Regions from separate parts of the Homo sapiens genome. Here regions 2, 3, 4 and 5 are each linked to region 1. The links come from fine-mapping of genetic effects on plasma protein levels. A gene starts in region 1. Each other region holds a variant in brackets. All regions are shown on one strand. Distances are from middle to middle.

Region 1 (5,105 bases):
CTCACTGAAAAGAAGAACAAACCCTTTTCCTCTTCTAATTGATGGAAAGGTCATTGAAAGGAACACCCTGTATAGAGGATAGTGCAATGCCCACAGTATTCCAACATTTAATTAAAGCATTGAAATACAAACTAGGGGTGGTGCTAGACTTTATTTCCATCAAGATGGAAAATACTGCACCAAAACCCCAAATGGAGCTACTTAATTCTTTAAAAATTATGTCTATCAAATACTAAGCCCCTAGAGAGGCATTCTCTGTCTTTGGCCAGCTGGAGAGTGCATTAGTTAGGAAAAATTAAGCAAGGAATACAGATGTCACCTCGTGCTTTCCCTGGCACATCCTGCAACACCACTTAACCTGTGCCCCCTGCACATTGCAGCTTTGCATACAACTGTGAACTGTGAATTTGGAATTTAAAAAGACTCTGGATACTGTTGGGGCTGAAATTAAAAACTCTGAGGACAGTTTTCTCCCTTAAGACCCCTTGCTAAAGGTAAGCTGATATCCTGGGGTTTCTCATCAAGCCAAACACGGAGCACCAGGTCGCTAAACAGCAGCTACAGCTTCCGTCAGCTCTTCCCCTACTCTCATCAACCTCAAAGTCTGTCTTTCCCCAGCTATTTGCAATTCTCTGAAAGGACATGAGCCCGGGAAGGGAGAACTGGCTCCCAAGCGCTTTCCTACAGGAGCTCAGCGCAGTTGCCAAATTCCTTTTCCTCCCCTCCTCCGCAACTTTTCTCTAAGTACCGGAGAAGGGCTTGCTGCCTACTCCGAGGCAGCGGCAGTGCCAGCGGTGCCTGGCACACGAACAGTGGAACCTGCAGGCGAGATCTGACCCCCGGCTCTGCCCCCGCCCTCCGCGGCCACCTGCCCGATCTCTGAAGAGTGTGGAAGCCCGGGGCTCTCTTGGGAGAGAAGCTTCTCTACCTGGGAGAAACAAATCAAACATTTATCCTGTTCCGCAAAGGTACCCAGGGAGCAGCCTCAGCGGCACCCGCAGAGGAGTCTGAGCAAGGGCACCAAGATCTGGCCAAGAGATAACGACGTCCAGGGACCAGGTGCCCTTCGGCTCCCGCCGACCTGTTGCTCGAAACTTGCCCTGAGCTCTCGCTGCCGGGCTCTGGGCTCCCAAGCCTCTCCCCCGCCGCCGCAGCAGCCTCTTTTAGGGGCCCGGAAGAAATGGGAGCCGGGGCTGGTGAGAGGGGTAGGAAGAGGGACGGTAGAAGTTTCAGACCCAGGCATATTTGGGAAGGCGAGTGCTTTACATGATTCCCCATTTCCCAATCGGACCAGCTTAGCCTGGGCAGGCAGCCTCGTGCTGAGGTGCCTGGAGACCGCCCACCCCCTAGGTGCTCGCTTCCCCCCGGGTCTGACCTGATCGAAGTAAATGATGCGCGTCTTGTTGCTCATCTCGGATGGCTCGTGGTTGGTGCTCCGCACCGCCGAGAAGGCGACCTTGGAGTTGGCCGCCCGGACCGATATCCCCAGCGGGGAGGAAGAGGAGCCCTTGGAGTCCGTGGCCGGGTTCGAGTCGCACACCACCAGACACTTGCCCTCCAGCACGATGGGCTCCGTGTCGTTCTGTGCCCAGACGGGCAGCCCCGGCAGCGTGAGGACCAGCAGCACGGCCGGCACCGCGGACAGCGCCCGGCGCCCGGAGCCCATGGTGAGCCGTGTGGGCAGCCGCAGCCGGCTGGCGCTGGTGCTCGCCCGCGTCGCCTCCTACCCCGGGATCCCGGTGCTCGGGAAGATGCTAGCGGCTAGGTCGACAGCGCTGCAGGAGCGACGGCGGCGGCGGCGCGCACACTTCCACCAATTCTGTGGCTTGAAGTCAAAGTCTCCCCTCGAGCTCTCTCGCTGGCTCTGTTACCTTTGTCCTTTAAGGAGCTCATGCAGCACCCTTTACCCTACTCTCCTCCGCCCAAGAATCAGCCCTGCCTGGGGCCCCTGCACCCACTCTGGTTCCTAGACATCTGAAAGTCATCAAACCCTCACATTCACACCTCAAGGCAAAAAATAATAATAATAATAAATTCTCACCCCAAACTCAAGCACCACCAGCTAAACCACGGAGCAGGAACAAAAAGAGGGGACTCAAAGAGAAGCCACAAGGGTGGCGGGTGCCCAGCGGCGCGGGTGCCAGTCCTGTCTGGCTTGCGGCAGGGACGAGTTACAGAGGCAGAAGGTCCTTCCCAGGCTGAGAAGAACGCGAGGCTGTGTTCATGGCCAGGACGCCAGCGACTCCCACTTTCGCCTGGTCAAAAAAATCCCCCAAACCTGGTGTCACCCAGAGGTAGGGAGGGAGGCAGCGGCTAGCCAGGTCCCTCGCACCGAAAGCGCGGATTCGCAGGATCAGGTCCAGGGCGCCGGGCGCAGCGTTCAGGGCGGCTGGTCCGGCGGGGTCCTCTCCTGCCTGGCCGCCCGCCCCCAGTCCCTGCGCACAACTTTCTCGTCCCTCGTGCAGCCCGGAGAGCGCGAAGCGGGCACACGCGCTCTATTTATAGGAGCGCAGCGTCCGGCTGGGTTGGCTTATCGCGCAACCCGCGGGCTCCGAGAAAAGGGGGAGAAGGCGTCTGGTGACCCCATCTGAGCAGCTCTCTCCTGACGTTTAACGCACCCCAAAGCAAGCGGGGCGCACAGCACTGGTGATTGGCAAGGTTCGAGGCCCCTCAGCCCCTGAAAGCCCGTGGCGTAAAGGATGCGTGCCCAGAGAGGAGCCCACGGCCCTGCGCTGGCCCCAGCTCCGCGCCCACTCTCTCCTGCTCGATCTGAGTCCGCAGAGGAGGCGGCTGGTCCCCTCACCCCTCCCAGCGCGGAACTCTGCCGCCGAGTGCCCTCCAAGCGGAGCGCGGCGCTGCCAGGCCGGGTCGCGAAAAAGGATAAGCCGCCGCGGACCCGCGCTGCGCGCTGCCCCGAACCTGGGGACCGGCGGGCGTCCCGACCGCGCCTGGCCGGGAGCCCGCCCCACACAGCCCTGGGGCCTGGCGAGCTCAGGGAAGCCTTGGGGCGGACCAGAGCCCGTGGGGGCGGCTGGGAGGAGGTGCCTGATTCCTTCCTTCCGCTCCGGGAAGATGAGCCTCAGAAGCCGCAGGGGCGCGCCTTCCCCCCACACCGCGAATCCTCCCCAGGCATGGCCAAAAAAAAGAGTGGGAGAGGGAGTTAACTCAGCAAGAATAAGTCCTCCGAAACCGTGCCAACAACAATAAAAAAATAAAAATAAAAATAAAAATAAAAGACAATCCCACTCCTAGGAATACAGCATTTTTCTCCCCTTTGGATGCGCTTTCCGCCCCCGTGCCACTCCACTGCTATCTTGGCCTCTGATTTGCAAGAGTTCCCTTCCTCTTCTGCAGCTACCACGGGGAAGGGAGGTTTGTCTCTGTCTGGACCCGGCTGCGTGAACTTGGCCGAGTCACTAACCCTCTCTGAGAGGGGGGCGCGGCGTTAACTAAGGTCCTCCCCACCCCCATCCCGCCAGCTTTCCAATTCTGTGATGCTGTGGGGTCATGGCGCCCCTTCCCCAATTTCTTCTACACTTCCAGCTGCCAGAGGGCAGACACGTATGGTATCTTTAACCAAAACAGTATCCCCTCCAGGCATTCGGAGCTCCTAAAATGGCATTGGCTAGTTATGAATGGAAGGGATGTTTATTGAGGGAGGTCCTTGGGATGGACGGCTCCCATTCCTTCCTGAGTGAAGGACGCCCTCATGAGCGTGGCATTCGAGCCCTCCACAAAACAAGGTGAACCTCGTCTCCAGCCTTTTTCCCTTCCTTCAGAAGGGCCGGGCATTGAGCTATAAGCACCAGCTCCAACTGTTAAAATTGAAGACACTACGAGGAATCCCCTAACCCTCACCTCCCTATAATCTCTCAACTAAAGTGTTAATACTTGGTGCCACAGGGGCCTTCAGATTCTGCTCCAGTGGGGCCAGTATCAGGTGTTTTGACTTTATGATTTTATTTTACTTGTGGTGGGGGGTGGTCTCGCTATATTGCCCAGGCTAGATGCAAAACTACTGGGCTCAAGCGATTCTACTACCTCAGCCTCCCCAGTAGCTGAGACTACAGGCCGGTGTCAGTTCCGGCTGGCAGGTGCTAGTACCATGCTATTTGTTAAAATGTTGAAAGTTACCTATCTAAGCTACAACCAAACAAGGTGAACTAGTGCCTTCTGAAGATGGCCACCATTTACCCAGCTTTGATGCCCCACCCTAAGCCCAGCACAATCTTCACCTGATCCCTCTCTGCACTTTGTAACTCTCTTCCAGATTTTAGGGATGTCTGCCTGGTTAACAGCAGCAATTTCTTCTCATTTGATGCAGTCTTTTGAGGGTGGGTGCTGAGTTGAATTTAGTTCCTTTTATTTCCTGTAGGGGTAAGCACCCTGCCTTCCTTGTCTGGGACAGCTGTTCAATAACTAGAACTTTGGTTGTTCAATTTCAGGCTGGGAGAAGTTTGACAAAAAAAAAAAAAAAAAAAAAAAAAAAACTGTGTTGAATTGTTAAATAGAAAATAAGCTATCTTCCTCACCAATTCCAATATATTCTCTCTACCTCCTTTTCTTCTCCAGGCACTTCCTGCACGCAAGAACTGAGATTTGAAGAAACCTATTCTTTCTCTCACCAAAAATATTCATTTTTAGTCCCAAAATCTGCATAGTGACCATAGTAAAGACTCAATAATTGAGAAATGACTGAATGCTTCCTAATAGAAGGTAATTATCACTCATATTATAGTATAAACTGCTTTAAATGAGTCTCTCTCAGTAAAATTTAAATTCAAAGCCTCCTTAATAATTGGGGATAAGGGTCTCGGTTCCTTACTAAAGGATGTTCTGCTCTTCAAAGTGTTCTGAAGATAAGGAACACAGCATTTTCTGTGGACCCCCGCTAAGAGAAGTTATCTTATATTGTGAATCAGAGGGTCCTGACTCTTTTTCCCACAACAGTTGATTAAACACGGATAGCCCCTGGGTTCTAGGACCATCAATGCATTTGATACCAGAAGTCCAAGATTTGTATGGTCCAACTTGGCCAGATGACTTGGGGCTGCCAGATTTTCTCTCTGCAATCTTAATGAGACATCAAAATAGCTTCCAGTAAG
Region 2 (5,105 bases), 170 kb after region 1:
CATCCACAGTGGTGAGCTCCATTCAATAGCCACATCCTGTGTTCATCCTTCCCTGATGGCCCAAGTGGAAGAAATTATCTGCAGCACGCAGCTTCCAACTCATTTGGGGGCCTCTACTCTCCTTGCTCCTCATCCTATTCAATTAGTCATCAATTACTTGAGAGTGGCTTAGAGAGAGCTCTGTGCTAACAAGAAGATAGCAAGAAAAGCCTGTGCCTGTTCTCATAGACTTCACCATCCAGCAAGGATCTAAGAGACTTGTGCAAATGCTCATAGCAACACCAAAATGAGGTCTGTGGGAACCTCTAAGCCCCCAGCCCACTCTCCCAGTAGCACACAGATGGGCCTCACAGGGTCAGTGGACCCCAGAATTGCACCCCACTTCATCTGTTCATGAACTGGGTGAGGTGCCCATATATAGCTCTCATCGAATCATATTCTCATTAGATTCTTATCCAGAAGAATTTAACCAACTTCTTGCTCCTTTTTTCCTCCCTTTTCCTTAAGAGACAATGCCTACGACCCTTCAGGGGATCAGGGGAGCATCCGGGGTGATAGGAGATGATGAGAATTTATCACAGGGAACTTCAGAAGGAAATCTGTAAAACGAGCCTTTTACATAAACCTTATAAATCTTGGGGCACATATGGTTCAGTGTCAGTGCAAGATCAAGTTCAGGAAGCATCATTTAGCTTCAAAATGTGATTAATACCAGTTTCATTATTTATTTGCATCTCTCCAATAATACTGAAAGAGATCCAAATGCAGTTTATATTTTATTTATTCTCCTACCCACCCCAAAGAAAGGAAATAAAGACTAGATTGGGGCCAGGTGTAGTAGCTCGTGCCTGTAATCACAGCACTTTGGGAGGCCAAGGCAGGTGGATCACTTGAAGTCAAGAGTTCGAGGCCAGCCTGGCAACATGTGGAAGCCCTGTCTCTACTGAAAATACAAAAATTAGCCAGGCGTGGTGGCGGGCACCTGTGAATCCAGCTACTTAGGAGGCTGAGGTATGAGAATAGCTTGAACCCGGGAGGCGGAGGTTGCAGTGAGCCGAGATCATGCCACTGCACTCCAGCATGGGTGACAAAGCAAGACTCCATCTCAAAAAAAAAAAAAAAAAAAAGACTGGATTGGGAACCAAACTGAGAACATCTTAGGGAAAGAGAAGAGCAGAACCAAGACTGGCTCATCCTGGAGAAAGTGTCGGGAGAGTCATGCGGGAGGACAGGAGTGAGGAGTGGACGAAAGAATCTGCAAGAAGTCTTTCTGGGAGCTATAAATTAAAACACTTACTCTGTCCTAGAAAAGAGAAACGCATAGTAGAGTCTCTTTTTAATTTGGTCTCTACTGTGTTTCTGTAATTCCATCTCTACGCTTAAACTGAGCCACAGAGGGACTTGAAATTTGTTTGAATTGCATTTTTAACCCCTGGAGCCTGTCGGGGACTGTGGCAAGCAGCAGGAATGCAGTTTGACTGCCCTTAAATAACCTAGCAGGGAGTGAAGGAAGCTGCAGGTTTCAGTGTGATTTAGTAGGTGGTAAAAGCCTCAGTTAGCCAAACCCAAGGAGTTTGTGGGCCCAGCTCTGCGTGGCCACTATGGTCCAATGGTGCATGCACCAAACTGTATCTAAGACATCGGATTTCATAGCCGTGAAGGTCCACTTCCTCCAAGAAGCCTTCCTAGACTAACCCAGCCCTTACAACCAAATATCCCCTGATGTTCTCAGCACTGATACGACGAAGCTGAGTCTGATTCACATTTTTACATCCTCTGTCCCCAGTGACACTGCCAGCTCCTGGAGGCAGAATCCACTTCACACCACACATTCTGCCTCCCTCACTGACACACTCAGCCCTCATCCTATCAGAGAAAGTACTCATCAGTCCATCTCAGTTGTCAGCAACTTCCCACCCCCCATGCCACTCCCCACTTCCCTGCATAAAGAGCCAAACTCTGCCACGTCAGGTGAGCACTCAGGCTCAGAGAGACTCCTGGAAGAGTGCTTACCTGAAGGCTCACGGTGGTTTTGTGTGGGTGAAGTGGGGGCTGTGGTTTCAGATCACACTTTCTGATGAATGTATTAAAACCCAACCATCATGTGCTAAGCGGGTCCCTAAATCTAAGCACATTGAATGTGGGCTGAAGTTCCCACACAGTCAATGAGACCCAGGGAGCATCGGCACCTGCCCATGGGAGTCCACAGACACTCCAGGTGCCACTGTTTCGAGTTCCTGCTGCCCCAGGTACTACCTGGCAGCAGGAACCTCCTCTGGGGAAATAACTCTGTGGATGACTCTGGGCTTTGGAGAAGACTCGTCTTACCAGGAATTTGGAACTCTCCCTGCCAGCTGGCTCACACTTCAGGAAAACAGAGCCAGGAGCATTCTGGT[A/G]GCACTGGGCCCCTCCCTCTGCCTCCCTGTTTCTCAGGATGGGGAAGCTTTGGCGGGGGTCACCCACCTTTTTTTGCAAAGTGGCCACATTTCCCTCCTCTCCTGAAAAGGTCAAACTGTTGAGCCTAACTATATTTAAGAACAGCGTAGAGGAAAAGAGACTCAATCAGCAATTGGGTCATATTACCATCCATGATGTTTCAGGAGATGTTTTCTCGCGTTCTATTGTATTATATTATTTGACTTTTTTTTTTTTTTTTTTTTTGAGACGGAGTCTCGCTCTGTCACCCAGGCTGGAGTGCAGCAGCATGATCTCAGCTCACTGCAAGCTCTGACTCCCAGGTTCACGCCATTCTGCCTCAGCCTCCCAAGTAGCTGGGACTACAGGCGCCTGCCACCACGCCCAGCTAATTTTTTGTATTTTTTTTTTTTTAGTACAGATGGAGTTTCACCGTGGTCTCAATCTCCTGACCTCGTGATCCACCCGCCTTGGCCTCCCAAAGTTATTTGACATTTTATAATAGGCATGGGTTTTTAATAATCAGAATAAAACAGCAGTTAGCATTTTGAAAATTAAGAAAAAAGCAAAGGACACTTTCTTTTTTATTTTCCCACTAATGTGGATGAGGGGGAGGGGTCTTTAAAAAATGTCTTCCAACAGAGTAAAATTTCACTTACACTTTTTCCTCACTAGAAGTGTGAAAGCTAATAAATGTTTTAAGTTCTAGGCATTGCTTCTTTCACGTCTGCTTTCTTTTTTCAAATGCTGCATTTCTTTGATGTCTCAGGTAGGCCAGGGTCATGTTTTGAAACCTCAACACCCCCATACTAAATAACTGACCTTAGTAAACAGACCTCACACGTTATTCCCACCAGAATGATTACGATGGAAAAGACAGAAAATGCCAAGTGCCACTGAGAACTTGGAGCACCTGGAACTTTCAAATGCTGATGTTGCGGGTATCAATTCATACTGCTTTGGAAAGCTGTCTTTGGTAGCATGTGCTACCTTAGGACCCAGGAACTATGCAACTTTCCCCAAAGACATGGAGTAGGATATTCTTTGCAGTACTACAATAACCAAAAACTAGAAACTTCTCGACTGTGCCTCAGTGATAAAATACATCATTGCATATCCACACAATGGAATAGTATACCACAATGAAAAGAAATTACAACTATACTCAACAATACAGATGAATCTCACAAACAATATTGAGAGAAAGAAGCCGACTCAAAGAGCCCGTGCTGTTTGTATTCATTAACATAATGTACAAAGACAGGCTAAACTAATCACCTTCAGAGACAAAAGTGAGGAACGTGGTGACCTTTGGTGGGACTAGGGGAGGAGTGACTGCAAAGAGATCTTTGGGTTGATGGAACAGAGGCAATGGTGTCAAGTTCTGTTTCTTGACATTAATGCTTGTTACTTGGGTGTTTCAGCATGTAAAAATCTGAGCTGTGCGCTTTTGCTTTAGGCACTGTGATATGCATATTATAGTCAAAAAGTTTTTTAAAGTAGATATCTGTTCCTATGAAGGATTAGGTTTTAATAAATATAACTCACTTAGTGACCTTTTCACCAAAAAATAGCGGATTAGGTTTTAATAAATATAACTCACTTAGTGACTTTTTCACCAAAAAATAGCAAAGGAGAAAAAAGTGAACCTGCAGGTTGAAAACAGAAAGTTTACAGATGAAAAGAGAAAAATCTGATTGTATGCCCCTCCCACAATCTTACCCAAAACCAAATGCATATTTTAGAATCAACAGATTTCTTATCAAGAGGAAATATTTCGTTGTCCAAGGCGAAAGAGTCTTTGTTTTCTTAAGACAGGGTCTCGCTCTGTTACCCAGGCTGGATTCAGTGGCGCGATTTCGGCTCACTGCAGCCTCAACCTCCTGGGCTCAAGCGATCCTCCTGCCTCACCCTCCCAAGTAGCTGGGACTACAGGCACATGATATCACACCTGGCTAATCTTTGTATTTTTCATAGAGAGGGGGTTTTGCTATGTTGCCCAGACTAGTCTTGAACTCCTGAGCTCAAGTGATCCTCCTGCCTCAGCCTCCCAAAATGCTGGGATTACAGGTGTGAGCCACCACACCCAGCCCAAAAGAGTCTATGTGCAGATCTTATTCTATGTGCAGATCAGTTTGAAGATCTTTAAACATAGCTGGTTTTCAATCCTCTGCCTGCATTGTTTAAAATAAAAGGTGTGTTTTCTGGCATCTTTTTTAAAAAGGCCAAGAGGGGCATGCTGTCATTTGACCTAATTTTGATCTGTTTCATTTAAGAAATATATTTATGCACAGGGGATTGGATTGCCTATAGAATGAGGTCATTTCTTGTGTGTCATATGCTGAAGCAAGTGAAAGGAGAGGCAGGTGACATCTATAAATTTTAGTCACACACTTCCTTCCATTTCACCCAGGATGGTTCTCTAGTCACTAAGCAGGTGAACACTGACACCCAGTGCGAGCAATGGGAACAAAGCTTTCTTGGTACCTGCTTCTAATAAAAATTCTGTGCTTGGATTTACTGGAAATAACTTAGAAGGTACATTTTTGAAAAAATTGATGGGGAAATTGATTTAAAAATTGGTACAGGATATAAGAACACAAACAAAAATAAAAGTTTCAAATGCCAAGTAAATATATATATAAATATGTTCAGCATCACCAGTGAAAAGGAAATGAAACCAGAAATTA
Region 3 (5,105 bases), 520 kb before region 1:
GAGAGGAGTTCTCTAACCTGAATATGCCACTTAAAAAATAAAAAGCTGTATTAGTCTATTCTCACACTGCTATAAAGAACTGCCGAAGACTGGGTAATTAATAAAGAAAAGAGGTTTAACTGACTCACAGTTCCGCGTGGCTGGGGAGGCCTTAGGAAACTTAGAATCATGGCAGAAGGCACCTCTTCACGGGACAGCAAGAGAGAGAATGAGTGCCGAGCAAAGAGGGGAAAGCCCCTTATAAAACCATCAGATCTCATGAGAACTCACTGTCACAAGAACAGCATGGGGGTAACTGCCCCCATGATTCAATTACCTCCCACCAGGTCCCTCCCATGACATGTGGGGATTATGGGAACTATAATTCAAGATGAGATTTGGGTGGGGACACAGCCAAACCGTATCACAGAGATGTAATCGTAAGGTGATAATATGATTTGGCTCTGTGTCTCCACCCAAATCTCATGTCCAGTCGTAATCTCCATTGTTGGAGGTGGGGCCTGGTGGGAGGTGATTGGATCATGGGGGCAGTTGCTAACGGTTTAGCACTGTCCCTGTAGTGCTGTTTCATGATATAGTTCTCAGAAGTTCTGGTTGTTTAAAAGTGGCACTGCTCCCCTCTCTCTCCTGCTCCAGTCATACGAGACGTACCTGCTTACCATTCGCCTTCTGCCATGATTGTAAATTTCCTGAGGCTTCCCCAGCCATGCTTTCTGTACAGCCTGTGGAACCATTAGCCAATTAAGCCTCTTGTCTTTATAAATTACCCAGTCTTGGGTATTTCTTTATAGCAGTGCGAGAATGGACTAGTACAGTTAGTATAAAGAGCTGGCAGTTCAGCAAGTACCCAGTCTAGCCCCGTGTTCTTGGAACATGTGCCTTATTAAATAGGCAGTGAAAATTGAATCCAGATTAAGCTCCCTGAGTCTTTTAAGAAATGGTAATTTGGCCAATTATTTAATTTAAATTAAACAAAAACAGCACAATACCACCCACCTACTTTCCTCTTAAACATTTGGATATTTTAGCACAGAAAATCTGAGATGATTTAATTACCTCACTTGCATGTTGTTGACAACTGAAGATGAGATGACATTCATTTAAATTCTAAGCTTAATTTATTCCAGGCCATGTTTTTACCAATTTTCATTAATGGTAATGTAAGAAAAGGTTCAAAACTTATAAACTAGATTTTCACAAAACTAATTTTGAGTTGAAAGTTGGAGTATAATCTCATCATTGGGTTACTGGAGAGTAGGGCAAAGAGAAAGACACTGACTAGTTGTGACTATTATTCTTTTTTGTACCACTTTTTCTGTGGATACTTGTGTAGTTAAGTATGACTTCTAAGGTTGCCTTCTGCTGCCTTTTGGTTGTTTTCCAAAGCTTAGAACAGGACAAGAGGAGTCCTTATGATAGGAATCCTATTCTAAGTAAAGTTCTCACCAGCTGTGCGGACATTATGACCCTGGAGGTTCTGCCAGAGGTAGTTCATTGCTCACATATTACTTGCATAAGATTCTAGCTACATGAAGGGCTGGTAGATCAGGCTATTGGAGGGAGAACAGTAGCTGTGCTGTGTATTTTATAACCGCACACCACAATGGAAAAATAAAATAAGGTGCGTCTTTTTTACCTTCAGCCAACTGAGACGAAGATTTTCTTAAAAGGACCATTTTGGGAACTAGACCTATGCCCTCCTTAAGTTTGGGGAACACAGGAGTTAGTATCTGATGTTCAATGGAAGAATCTAAAGAGGAAGGGAGAGGGTAATAGAGCAAAGAGAACAAGGTGCATTGCAAGCTGACTGTACCTTCATTAAATGTAGAGCAAGAGAGTGTGGACCAGACATTGCCTGCCATGCCCGAAGGGAGCTGTTCCAGGGCTGTCTTCGAAGAGACCCAGCCAATGAGGCAGGAGAATGGCGTGAACCCAGGAGGCGGAGCTTGCAGTGAGCCGAGATCGCGCCACTGCACTCCAGCCTGGGCAGCAGAGCGAGACTCTGTCTCAAAAAATTAAAATTAAAATTAAAATTAAAAAATAGAAGAGACCCAGCCAAGAGGACCAGTGTCCACCGAGGAAGAAGTCCAGTTGATGATAAAGAAGGCATTGTTCTTGTCAAGTGAACAAGTTTGGACACTCCAGAAGGACCCCTCTAAGAGATTTAAGAATACCCTAGAAATTGGTCCTCCACTCGGATGAGATGATGGTCCAAAGCCAGATTACAACAGTTCCTTCATTGACATGGTGCTTTTCTTCACCAAAGGAGTGCACAAGACACCTTTCTGAAGATTTCACAATACTTAAAAAAAAAAATGAACTCTCCTCAGAGTGTCTTTTATAAATGTATGAGGTAGAATAAAAAATTAAATAAGCAGTAGAAACTTATTTAAGACAGTTCCACTCTGGCAAGACCTTTATTTTTCTTATTACTCCTCTCTCCTCCATGCACCCAACCCTATAGCAACCATACGTAGCTGCTGGTGAGGAGGAAGGGACCCTGAGGAAGAAGGAAGAACCCAGTCTACAAGTGAATGGAGAGAGAGAAGAGTTAAGATTGCTGAAGGACTGGTGGTTTACTATAGCACGGATGGAGCTTTTTATTTACCAAAATGACTCTTCTTCTAACTGAAGGAACATTAAAAAAATGACGTGTTTTGCAAAAGACTTAATCCAGGATA[G/C]AAAAGGGGATAGCACAGAAGAGGAGTTTGAAGGAGCAGAAGAAAAAAAGAATAAAATTATTTTCTGTTCACACTCTGCCAAGTCCAGTTCCTTCAATCCATAGATTATAAATTACTGTTTTAAATGAGTTTCTACCGCTACATTTATAAAAAACTCTGAGCAAGTCTTCATTTTTTTTTTTTAAGTGTCGTGAAATCTTTCAGAAAGATGTCTTCTGCGCTCCTTTGGCAAACAAAAGCACAATATCAATGAGGGCATCTCTTCTACAAGGAAAAGTCATGTTAAAAAAAGGACTGCATCGGCAGACATTCGGGACACTATTAAACCCGTAATTCCTTCTATTATGAATAGGAATTATGTGTGAACATCAAAAGAAAAACGAATTCTGCCTGGCATGCTATCATTTGCTATTGAGAGATTCTGGACTTTAATCATAAACCTTGAAAAGAGGCCATCACACCATTCACAAAGGGGAACCTTGGTCTGGACCGTTCAACAGAGTTAGAAATGATACCTGTGTTACTTGAAAGAATCAAACAAAAGAGCCTCCAATTAGCAAGCATTCCATTTTGCATTTTAGTATATGTATTTGTGTATTACCCCAAAAGCAAGTCATATACATAGATGTCAGAATTTGCAAACTCACAGCCCCAGGGATCACTGTTTGCCAGAATGGTGTTTTGTTTTTGTTTTTTACTCATGTTGTTTCTGTTTTATGACATTTTTTTATTGAGGTGTAATTAACATTCAATGCCAGATATATTTAAAAAGTAGAATTTGATAGAATTCTGTGTATGTGTATGCCTGCAAAATCATCACCACAGTCAGGATAGTGAACATATCCATCACCTCCAAATGTATCCTCATGCCTCTCTGTATTAGCTCTCTCCTACCTAAGCAACCCTCAGTCTGTTTCCTATCACTGTAGGTTAGTTCTCTCTAAAGGTTTATAAAAATTGCATCATACAGGATGTATTATTTTTTGTTCTCTTTCACGGAATATAATTATGTTGTAATCCATCAGGTTTTAGCAGGTATTAATAGTTCATTTCTGTTTATTACTGAGTAGTATATCATTGTATAGATATACCACAATTTGTTTACCATACCTATTGATGGATTTGTGGGTTATTTCTATTACTTGACTACTGCAAATTGTTTCTCTGAATATTTGTGCACAAATGTTTGTATGAAAAGAAGTTTAATTGGCTTATGGTTCCACAGGCTGTACAGAATAGCATTACCTAAGAGAGAATAATGTGTACATTTTTCTCTCTTAGGTAAATACCTAAGAGTAGAATGGCTAGATCGTATGATAGGTATATTTAGGCTTTTAAGAAACTGTTAAACTGTGTTTCCAAAGTGGTCGTGACCTTCTAATTTCTAATCACCATTTTATTAGTGTTCTAATTCCTTCACATACTTATTGTTTGGTATTGTCAATTTTTAAACTTCAACTATTGTAATAGGTTGTAGTGGTACTCATTGGGGTTTTAATTCACATTAATAATAATATTGAACATCCTTTGATGTGCTAATTTACCATCTGTATATCTTTGGTGAAATCTGTTCAAATCTTTTGTCTGTCGAGTTCTTTCTTTTCTTACTGAGTTTGGAGAGTTCTTTATATGTTTTGGACACACGTACTTTATCAGATAGGTGCCAGTCGTTTTGTTTTCTTCATGTAGTCTTTTGAAGAGCGGAAGTTTTTAATTTTGAAGTCAAATTTATCACTTTTTCTTTAACGGGTTTTCCATGTTCCTGCCTTTTGGAGATTACTATTTGTTAAGCATGCCCAATGCTTTGAAAAATATTGCATTAAGTATTATCTCTGCCCAGGTTTTTTTTTTTTTTTTTTTTTTTTGTTGTTTCAAGGGGGTATAGTGAATCCAGTTTCTATTACATTTTAGCCAGCTGCAGAAGGTTGGTTGTTACTTTAAGTTTTTCTGGCCAATATTTAACAATACACAGACATATAAATATCTACATAATTAGATTCCCTTGAAAATTATCTGGCCATGCAGTGGTCACATCCCTGCACAAAACAGGCTGGAACAGTGTGACCTGCAGTTTGGTTACCTATTTTCCCCATTAAACTTAATGAGTCCACTGGTAGAAAATGATATTAATGGCAACATGGTTACTCAGCTTCTCTATGTACCCAAATATAACCGTTTATCTAGGTAAATTGCATGGGCAAAGAGTTTTAGTCATTTCATTAAAAAATCATCCCTTACTATTAAATGGAAAAAAAAAAAGCACATCTGATTAGAAATGGTGAAAACTATTACCTTTATTTGCAAAGAAAGGAAGAATGGACATTTTTAGTACCAGGCATATTAGTACCAGGTATTTTAACACACAATATTCAGTAAAACCAATGCATTCAAGTCCTAAAGCAATGCTATGATTAATTCATTAAA
Region 4 (5,105 bases), 290 kb before region 1:
GCGTTTGTGAGTCTGCCCTCCAGCCAATCCTGATCTCCATTTATGATAAAGTTCAAAGATATCTAGGCAGGAATTTTGATGTCTTTAAGGCTTGGAGTAAGTATTTGAGCTACTCTAGCAGGTTGAATCATATGAAGTTGCTTATACCCAGCCATACATAATCTAAAAATCTCAATTTCTTGTTTCACTTTGACAGAAAGCCTGACAGTGCCCATCTGGTGTTTGGTTTAGACTAAATTAAAACTCTCCTATAATCCGGTCTGCTGTGCCATCCTTATAGGTAAAATTCATTCACTGTGTCCTATTTCTCTTTGTGTACCCAGCACATAACACAAAACCAGGGACGCAGTAGGCACTCAATAGACATGTGATAAATTAATTGAATAAGTGATAATGGACTCCCCAATCCTGGAAGAATTGAGAAGAGAAGAAACAATTGGCAATGACTTTATAGAACTCGTTTATGCAGTGAGGAATTGGATGAGTATGTAGTAAAGGAAGCATTGGATAATATGACTTTTAAAGTCTCTTCCATATATGGGAATCTTTGGTAAATGCCACACATTAACTTCTAGAATGCATCATGCAGAAAGCTTCATCTGAACCTAAAATTGTCAAAAAGGTCACCTGCAACCCTATTATTTTAGAATACATAGTTAGAACCTGGGATGTCCTACAAAAGTCTCCTGTTTTGTAACCCAGTGTTCCTCCCAATTATTTATTTTGCCTATTTTCTGGCATATTGTAAAATTAAAAATTAATTTGGTGGTGATGGTGACAGGAAGTAATCACCAATAAATCTAAACACAAAGTTGTTTCTATTTACACAGCTTTTTCTGAACATCATTTGGAAGTACAAGAAATCTAGGAGCTATCAGTAGTAGATGACAACAGAATAAGCAATGACCGATCTGCTTTCTTTCCCTTTGTGGAAGACAGAAAAATAGGCTAAGGAAAGAAGTACTAGTGAAGACAACACAGGAAAGAAATGAGACTCATGGATACAGCATTCCAGAGAAAATAAAGCAATGGCTTTTTAAAAGGAAACTGACGGGTATGTTATAGGGACAGTAAGAAGACCAGCATGGCTGGAATAGAATAAAGGAGTAGAAAGGCAGTTGGCAAAAATAAGCCAGACAGAGGGGATGCCAGGAAATGGGTGGGGAAGAGCTGTCAGCCATTGTAAGGCTTCTGACTTTTTCTCTGCAACAGGAAGTTGTTGCTAAGACCTCACAGACTATTCCATCTACTTCACAATCACAAAAGCAAAGACATCTCTGAGTGAGAGATTGACAGAAGGAAAGGACAGGGAATAGGATGAACAAAAATCAGGAAAATGTTGTCTTGACAGCTTAATTGTTGCTTTGCAATTTTCCTCCCTTATCTTACTTTTACCCAGTGCAATTTGATACCAAAGTTTTTCAAGTGAGTTTCATCAATTCCTTTTATTTCTTTATCACAATCAAATGAACCTAGGCACCAAGACCACAGGCTGATCAAAATAACAGAGAAAGAATGTAGGTTTTTTAAAATATGAAAATGTGGTTCCATTTTTGGATTCATTCACTTAGGTTAATCTTGATTATGGTTATTTGGTGAGAAATCAAATATTTTTGAAGGCCAGAAGGGAATGTCTATTTGGATAAAACATGTTGAACTAAATATGGTTCACCAAATTATTATATTTACACATTGTCCACACAAGAAAAATCTGAAATCTCCAGTTTCGGCGATCAACTTTTTAACCTTTCAAGGAAATTTTCCTGTAGAAAGAAGTAATTGTATATAATGAGGTGTGATTACGTTAAGTGGAAGGAGATGTACTATCCTTGCCAACTGTGCTAGCGAGTTGTTTGCCTGGCCTTCCCGAATGTGTCAGCAAGAACTTCTCCAAAATAAGAGAAGAATTCCATCCAAGGCCATTTCTCAGATAAAAAGAAGGCAGAAGAGTATTTTATATCAAAGGCAAATAC[G/A]GCAAAAAATTACTCTTAAATCTCGGTCATTTTTCTTCCAGATTAAAGAAAAGCCAGGGAACTTTTTCTCATAATTTCACATCCAAATTCCTGTTTGGGAATGCATTCTGAGAAATTTATGAATCAGGAGACACTCTGCTTACTGCGACAGTAACTAGAATAAGAATCTGAATTGCTCCAATTTCTCAAAAAAAAAAAAAAAACAGGTTTATTTTCTCTGTGAGTTCATGGGCAAGAGCTGGAGGGGTAGGTGTGTGGGGGGAAGTGGATGAATCCTATCTTTTGAAAGTAGGCTTCATCTGGAAGCTAAAAAGATCATGAAGGTCACCTTCAATGCTATTATTCTAGAATTCTAAGACAATAAGTATAGCTTTTATTTACTATTAAAATAGATTAGTTCACCAAGATCTCACTAAATTGGATGCAACCTATATGGCCACCTGAAATAGCCAGAAAAAGTGGATAAGCATGCGGAGAGGCCCCTGTGAAGGGCATAAGATTGGCATCACTGTGGGGTGCACGGTCACTGTGGGAGTTCACTCAGCAGTGGTAGAGGGTAAGGTATTCATGTGTCACAAGTGTGGTTGAATCACAGGTGGTTTCCAAGTCTAGCTGAGCCTCAGAATCAATTGTGGTGTTCTTGTTTGTTTTCTTTCTATATGCGGTGTCCTGGGATCTCAAATCATAATCACCAAGAGTAACCCTAAACATCCATCGTTTTAAAAGCTTCCCAGGGAGTCTGATGTGGGCAGGTCCTATGCCAGATTCAGCATCTAACATGTGTTTCTTAAGCCACTCAGTGGACCTGGCATTGCTCTAAGCCTTGGCTACAAAGTGGGGTATAGGGCTGGGGTTTGAGTTTAGGCCCGTGGACCTGTTTTCAAGGTGTTCACATTGTCTATCTCTTTCACTCTAGAGATGTCATAGTTTTGTGTCCATAATAATGAGAAGGCCACTTAAAAACATATTCTATTGTGAAATATAACCAAATAATATTCACAACTATTATTTCTATTAATAATAATAGCTTGTCAAAGGTCCAATCTTAAGTGCTAGGCAGATAATATTTTAATTTTTATTTTAATCCATTTTACAGATGAGGAAATGTAGAATTCAAGAGATTAAATACATGGTTTACACCCCTCTGCCAAGGCAAGTGGGAGGGCATGAGGCAGAAGGAGGAGATAGGTTTAAAGCAACAAGGATGAGATTCTCTTCTACTTCTGTCTCACCCTAGAGCCTGTGATCTTACCTCTAATGCTACTCCCTCAAATATATATGAGTAGTTCAATATACATGGTTGAATACACATGTTATTGACATTCCTACAATATGTAGAGTTTTGACAAGCAGAACGGAAAATGTCCCTAGATTCTAAGTAGTCTAGGTATTCTAAGTAGTACTGTGATTATAGTGTCATATATCAAAGAGGAGTGAACTTTTTTATTTTCTTCCACAGGCCAGGTATCTATATACATTATCACTTAATTTATATCAGCAACAAGGTTTAATCTAAGCCCCAATTAGTATTGAGAAAGCTGAGTCCGAGGGGGCTAAGTTCAAAACTACATGCCCCAAGAGTGGTATATTTCAGGTCTTTGGATCTAAATATGGAATGTGCTTTTTTATTGCATCAACTTAGAAATCATATAATGAGCTCCTTAAAAGAAAAGCTGGGTTTATGTCTCAGCTCTGCTGCCACTTAAAAGCTGTATAATCTTGGTCAAGTTGTGAAACTTCTTTCAATTTCAGTTTCCTCATCTACAAAAGCAGAATAATAATAGTAATAGTTATCTCAAAGGGTGAGGATTACATGTTAATAAAGCAGCTAATGAAGTGTCTAGGAAATACAGACAATAATGCTATTGTTTATTATTAAAGTTAATTTTAACAATACTTGTAGACAGTATGTTCTATTAAACTCTCAGAAAATGGAAGTTATGGAGGCAGAAAACAGTGAGAGATAAGAAGGAATTGGAAAGGATATTCCCTAAGAAATAAGGCAAAATTGTAAGCTAAGTAAATAGGTAGTGTAATTTATTGTTTTCTTTGCCTTTTTAAAAATTTACTCCTTCAACCAGTATTATGAGTGCTTACTATGTGACAGATACTATTCTAGGTATTGGAGATTCAGGAGTGAAGAAGACAAATAAGATTTTACTCCAGAAAGAACTTAACCTTCCAGAGAAAGAGAAAGTCAATCAGAAAGTAAGTAAGTAAGCTGTGTGTGGTGGCTCATGCCTATAATCCCAGCACTTTGGGAGGCTGAGGTTGCTGGATCATTGAGCTCAGGAGTTCAAGACCAGCCTGGCCAACATGGCAAAACCCTGTTTCTACTAAAAATACAAAAATTAGCCAGGCACGATGATGGTCCATGCCTATAGTGCCAGCTACTCGGGAGGCTGAGGAAGGAGAGTCACTTGAACTCAAGAGGCAGAGGTTGCAATGAGCTGAGATTGTGCCACTGCACTCCAGCCTGGGTGAGAGGATGAGACTCCATCTCAAAAAAAAAAAAAAAAAAAAAAAAGGAAAGGAAATAAATGAATAATATAGTTGCAGTTAGTGACGAGGATATAGGGAAAATCAACGAAGAGTGCAATAGAGAAAGGGAACAGTGACTATCTGGACAGAATCAGGCAAGGAAAGACCTCATTGAGGAGATGAGATTTGAGCTGAGACCTGAGTCTGACATGCAACAGTCTGGGGACAGAACCCATGGAGTAGAACAGGGAACCCCAAGTGGAGTGTGCAGGAGAGATAAAAAGCCTATCATATTTGACAAAAGGCAAGCAGGCCAATGAGTGATAAAGTCAAAATGGCTATCAGGGATCAGGCCTTGTGGAACTGTGTGGGTAGCATGCCTGCCTTTCAACAGGTTTGTGGAGAAACAGACTGAGATGGAGATTTGCTCACATCAAGTCCTTGAGAGCAACACCCATCTAAGAAATGTAGGAGACAGGATTGAGCAGAGAGAGAAGTTGAGCTGTAATGTGTTTGATATCATTTGGCTCTGTGTCCCTACCCAAATCTCATGCCAAGTTGTAATCCCCAGTGTTGGAGGAGGGGCCTGATGGGAGGTGATTGGATCACAGGGGTGGATTTCCCCCTTTCTGTTCTCATGATAGTGAGTTC
Region 5 (5,105 bases), 69 kb before region 1:
ATGACAGCCCCCTCGACAACACATTTTAATTGCACGAAGCATCCATTGTGCCCTAGGAAACAACCTCTTTCCTAAGACATTTTCTTTGCCCTGGAATTTTGCATTTCTGTCTTTTTCACCCTTCAGGTCTTTTCTCCAATACCACCTCCATGCAGTGCCTTACTTTGCCGCACCCTCTAATCCAGGCCCTGCCTATTGAAACAGCCACTCTATTTTCTTTCTTTTTTTTTTTTAGACAGAGTTTTGCTCTGTCACCAGGCTGGAGTGCAGTGGCGTTATCTTGGCTCACTGCAACCTCTACCTCCCAGGTTCAAGTGATTCCCCTGCCTCAGCCTCCTGAGTAGCTGGGAGTATAGGCAGGCACCACCACGCCCAGCCAATTTTTTGTGTTTTTTTTTAAGTAGAGACAAGGTTTCACCATGTTGACCAGGGTGGTCTTGATTTCTGACCTCGTGATCTGCCAGCCTCGGCCTCCCAAAGTGCTGGGATTACAGGCATGAGCCACCCCGCCTGGCTGGAACAGCCACTCTATTTTCTTTAGAGTGAAAATCACAAACTTTAATTACATGATTCATGTGTGCTCTTGCTTGTTATTCTTGTCCTCCATGACAGCAGGAATCTTCTCTGTCTTGTTTATGGTTGTAGACCCAGCACTGACCTTAATGGCTAAGATATAATTGAGACAGAAAAAATTATTTGTAGGATAAATGAATTAGAAATGTATTTATTGAGTTCTGTGCTATGTACTCAACACTTCGCTAAGAAGTAGGGAGTATTTTGTAAAAGGCATGGGATCAAATGCCATCATCTTTGCCCTTAAAGAAGTTGTATTTTATTTGAAGAGACCAAACTCTGCACAGTGAGAAAATGAAACTAACAACATAAGCCAGTACATTTGAGTACTCGATTTAAGTACTAAATTATATGTTTTTGGTCACGTCGAGTTGACCAGAGGAACTTCTGGTGGGATAGGCCAGCCAAATGGTTTACTTATGAATAAGAGGGGTAAAGTTACAGAAGTTGGAGAAGTAAGAAACAATGAATTCTGGAATATCCAGAGAGGTCGTCATGGAGAAGGTTAAATGTATACCAACCTAAGACAGGTCGGAATTAGTTAAAAGTGCTTGAAAACACCTAGAGTGATGGTCCTTAGGTTCCCGAAGTAATGTTAATAAAAGGGAGCCCATTTACCTGCCAAATAGCAGGATATTTTATTATCTTTCCAGTGTATCCCATAACGAGGAGTGCCAGAAATTCCCCAGGTCAACTCAGAATTAATATGAGACACAATCACAGAGATCTTAGTTTCCAAACTCCCAAGTCCATGCCTGTATGTTCTTCCCCTTCCCAACACAGGCCCTGATGCACTGTATCTTTTTGAGGCTGAAGAGAGGGACGGAACCTTCTCCTAAGAAACAGGCTGCAGCTACCATCTCTGCCCTTGGTCCAAAGTGCTGTCTCCTCCCATCTTATCCTTGCCAGCTCTAGTCAATTTTGGAGCATTAGCATCTTTCCATAAGCAGTGATAAATCGGGACATTGCAAGACAGCTGGTGTCCCACACCAAACCTCAGAAATCTTACCAGCTAGAGGCAAACAGATGTTCTCTGCCTTTCCTACCTTGTTTACCAAGGGCTGTAACTAGTCCTGGGCTTTGGGTATGTTTGCTTAACAGATGCATCCTAATGCAAATTAACTGGGAAGGAATGGGAAAAAATAAACAAAAAATGCAAATGTTTAGCCACTCAAAATTTTCTGTCTTAAAAATACTCTCCAGGAACAAATGGCAATGAGAGCGAAGTTCAAAATGTTCCTATTTCTTCTGAGTTCACAGCTAATGTTCTTTTTATACTAGGCCTTCATGTGATTATTAAGGACAAAGATCAAGAAATAGAAGGGAACTCCAAATGGAAAGGGGAAGAAAATTGGGATGGAAAGAGAAAGCCCTAAGTGTGGTATACTCAAAGAACACTAAGAGGCAAGGCTGGCTCCAAAACATCCATGTAGGAAAACTGGAAGAGTGATGATATTTTTGGAAGATTGTGCAAGAGAACTGTTCTTGAGCTCCTGAGTTCTTGAGCAAGGACACTCTTTGGACGAGATCTTTTGCTTATTTAGGATTGTGGGGCTGTTAGAAATTATCAAGGGCTAAATTTCACCCCAGCTACCTCTTGGCACTACTGATAACAGACAAGAGACAGCTGTAACCAAACTGAAGGTACATTGCAGTAACGTGAAGGGAGGATTAGAGACCCCAGCTAGAGAAAAAGAACAGGTACATGCCTAGAATAAGACAGTAACAGCTGAAAGGAAAGGAAAGATACAAGAAACCCTCCAGGGGGAATTCAATAAGATGCAGTGAGTGGATACATTTAGGAGATGCCAGAGAAGAGTGAGTCAGAAATTCTCCAAGGCTGCAGGCTTGGCAGGCTGAGCGTGTATGTCAGAGAAGTCAGGAGTAGATACAAGTTTGGGGGCATAATGATGAATTTGTTTCTCCACCTGCTAAATTTGAGGTAACAGCAAGATATACAGGTGACAATGCCCAGTAGGTTGTTGAAGATATAGGAGCCAGTCCAAATAGAGTTCCTGGTATTTGTTAAAATAGCACTGACTGGAAAACTCACCTAAAACACACAAGCATTGCAGTGCTTTGCTGAAACCTCTGAAGCTTATGAATTGTCTGTTCTCAGTTCTTTGTGAAATGCTGAGTTATAGATATATAACCCCAAGGCTCATGATATCTAAGTCTTTCTAAACAAATAGCTGTGAGTGCAAAGAATCATAAGGTCTGGAAATGTCTGGGCTGGAAATACTCCAGTTAAGCTTGGACTGTGGACATTCCTCCCTCCCCCAAAACCTTTGTGAATTTTATAATATCTGAGTATCACTACATA[A/T]CTGGCTGTAGCAACGTAGCATCTCTATACTGTTGTCAACTTCGTATCTATTTGTAAAACAGTACTGCTTTTTACCAAAATAAATTTAATTTACAAAGTAGTACCGTAAGTGAAAAAACAGTATCACATGAATAAAATACAATGGTAAAAATACAGCTAATGAGGAAAAAGATATTAAAGCTAGCTGATTACTAGCTGTTGTACACATTTGTCATTTTTTGCATGCTTGACTTCTCTGTTGTTCAATATCCAGTGTCAACTTGATTGGATTGAAGGATGCAAAGTATTGTTCCTGGGTGTGTCTGTGAGGGTGTTGCCAAAGGAGATTAACATTCGAGTCAGTGGACTGGGAAAGGCAGACCCACCCTCAATCTGGGTGGGCACCGTCTAATCAGCTGCCAGTGCGGCCAGAATAAAAGCAGACAGAAGAACCTGGAAAGACTAGACTGGTTTAGTCTTCTGGCCTCCATCTTTCTCCCATGCTGGATGCTTCTTGCCCTCGAATACTGGACTCCAGGTTCTTCAGCTTTGGGACTCTTGGACCTTTGTCCACAGACTGAAGGCTGCACTGTCAGCTTCCCCACTTTTGAGGTTTTGGGACTTGGATTGGCTTCCTTGCTCCTTAGCTTGCAAATGGACTATTATGGGATTTCACCTTGTGATCATGTGTGTCAATTCTCCTAATAAACTCCCCTTTATATATACATACGTCTTATTAGTTCTGTCCCTTTAGAGAACCCTAATACTGAAACTTCTGAAAATCCTTCCTTTATGAGGAAGTCCAAATTACAGGGCAGGGTCTTGATTTTTCAAATGTATGCTGAAGGGGGATACAGATTTCTGCTCCCCATCTAACTCTAAGTGACCCTGTATTCTGGCTCATAGCCTTGCAAGGAAAGAACCAAAGACAAAAGGATGAATTTCTGAGACGCCCACACTGCAGTGTGTGGTGCACTGCCAGCTGCCACCCACAGTGCCCATGCAGGCCCGTCTCATGACATTTCTTGCTTAATTTATCAGATTCCTGGCTTTCCTTGGTTGTTGATGTAGTGTCCCTGCAAAACTTAGGGTCACTCAGAACCTCATAATGTGACCTTACTTAGAAATAGGGCTTTTGCGGATATAATCAGTTCAGGATCCCAAGATGAAATGCTGAATTTGTTGTGGGCTCTAAATCCAATCCTTAGAAGACAGGAGGACACTCAGATGCACAGAGCAGACCATGTGAAGAGAAACGCAGAGATAGGAGGGATGTACCTACAAGCCAAGGAATGCCTGGAGCCACCGGAAGCCTGTCAAAGTATCTGAGCCTGAGATCTATTTTTTGTTGAAATGAAAGTAGCAAGTGTTAAAGAGCTGTTAACAGCAGAGCAGTGCTAAATTGAGACTGTCCCCATGGGGCAATTAGAAAGACTGAAAGAAACTGGAAGGTAAATGACCTTGTATGATGTAATGTTATTTAATGGTATGTCTGTTTTTTGCCTGAAGCCATCTAATGCAGCACTAGTGATATGTCCCCTATCTTGGTAAATATTGGTTTAGTAAAATGTCCCGCCTTTATAAATAGGAGATTGGGTCTTGGTAAAGCAAAATGAAAGCACACAATCCCATGGATAGGCTAGAAGAGTCAAGTCCATGACTCTGTTCTTCCACGTTTCCTCCTTTTGCTCCCCACTCCACTGTTTTACCCCTTTATACATCTCTTCTTCAGGGCTTTCCTAACTATGTTTCTAGCTTTTGTAAGCTCCGTGCTTTAACATCTGCCCTATGTGCATATGCTGACACCACTCGTTCTGGACAATAAGGTGATATGCCCAAGTCACCTCGCCTTGGTCTCCTACCTCCCTCATCATCAACACCTCCCCTCCTTGGGAGGAGTCCTCCTCCTGGGGCATGTTTTCAAATGCAAACCCACCAGTTCAGAGTTCACACTCCTGTCATCCCTCTTATCAGGATCACACCATTCAGGCCACTATTCACCTCCCCTAATTACCCCAGAGCCAGGTACCAGACAGCTAAAGACAGCCTCCATGCCCAGGGTCTGCTGAAATTATTCAAATTAGCCAATCCTGAGCCTGCTGACCCTGCCTTCCCTGTTGCTTCCCATGGAAACCACAACAAAGGCTCTACCCACCGTTTTCTTCTCCCTCTGCCTCTGATCAGCCCTAGTGCTCCCCCACAAGGCCCCCCATGGCATGACATGCCCCTT

Alleles and levels. Alleles are on the strand shown, and positions count from the first base shown. The strength of an association depends on the size of the effect and on how common the allele is.
With allele G in place of A in region 2, the plasma level of the protein whose gene starts at base 3,014 in region 1 is higher (moderate association).
For the plasma level of the protein whose gene starts at base 3,014 in region 1, allele C in region 3 goes with a lower level than allele G (weak association).
As copies of G replace A in region 4, the plasma level of the protein whose gene starts at base 3,014 in region 1 goes down (moderate association).
For the plasma level of the protein whose gene starts at base 3,014 in region 1, allele A in region 5 goes with a higher level than allele T (weak association).

The links. A credible set is the group of variants that fine-mapping cannot tell apart. PIP is the posterior inclusion probability: the model's chance that the variant is causal. The UK Biobank Pharma Proteomics Project read protein levels with antibody pairs (Olink). The fine-mapping took linkage between variants from a reference panel, not from the people measured, so its PIPs are less certain.
Region 2: its variant is the best candidate, but not a certain one, in a credible set for the plasma level of the CBLN4 protein (UK Biobank, PIP 0.71).
Region 3: its variant is the best candidate, but not a certain one, in a credible set for the plasma level of the CBLN4 protein (UK Biobank, PIP 0.51).
Region 4: its variant is the best candidate, but not a certain one, in a credible set for the plasma level of the CBLN4 protein (UK Biobank, PIP 0.72).
Region 5: its variant is the best candidate, but not a certain one, in a credible set for the plasma level of the CBLN4 protein (UK Biobank, PIP 0.71).

The regions. Positions count from the first base shown.
Region 1 is chr20:56,002,506-56,007,610 of GRCh38, forward strand. CBLN4 (cerebellin 4 precursor) reads right to left here and starts at 3,014. Exons shown (of 3, transcript NM_080617.6): 1 at 1,376-3,014. The coding sequence starts at 1,666.
Region 2 is chr20:56,176,925-56,182,029 of GRCh38, forward strand. No RefSeq gene overlaps it. Among named protein-coding and RNA genes, the nearest start is that of MC3R, 69 kb to the right of the region's middle. The variant A/G (reference allele first, on the strand shown) is at 2,397.
Region 3 is chr20:55,480,051-55,485,155 of GRCh38, forward strand. No RefSeq gene overlaps it. Among named protein-coding and RNA genes, the nearest start is that of LINC01441, 55 kb to the left of the region's middle. The variant G/C (reference allele first, on the strand shown) is at 2,682.
Region 4 is chr20:55,712,987-55,718,091 of GRCh38, forward strand. All of the region lies in intron 2 of LOC107984001 (a long non-coding RNA gene), which reads right to left. Among named protein-coding and RNA genes, the nearest start is that of LINC01441, 290 kb to the left of the region's middle. The variant G/A (reference allele first, on the strand shown) is at 1,974.
Region 5 is chr20:55,933,624-55,938,728 of GRCh38, forward strand. No RefSeq gene overlaps it. Among named protein-coding and RNA genes, the nearest start is that of CBLN4, 69 kb to the right of the region's middle. The variant A/T (reference allele first, on the strand shown) is at 2,897.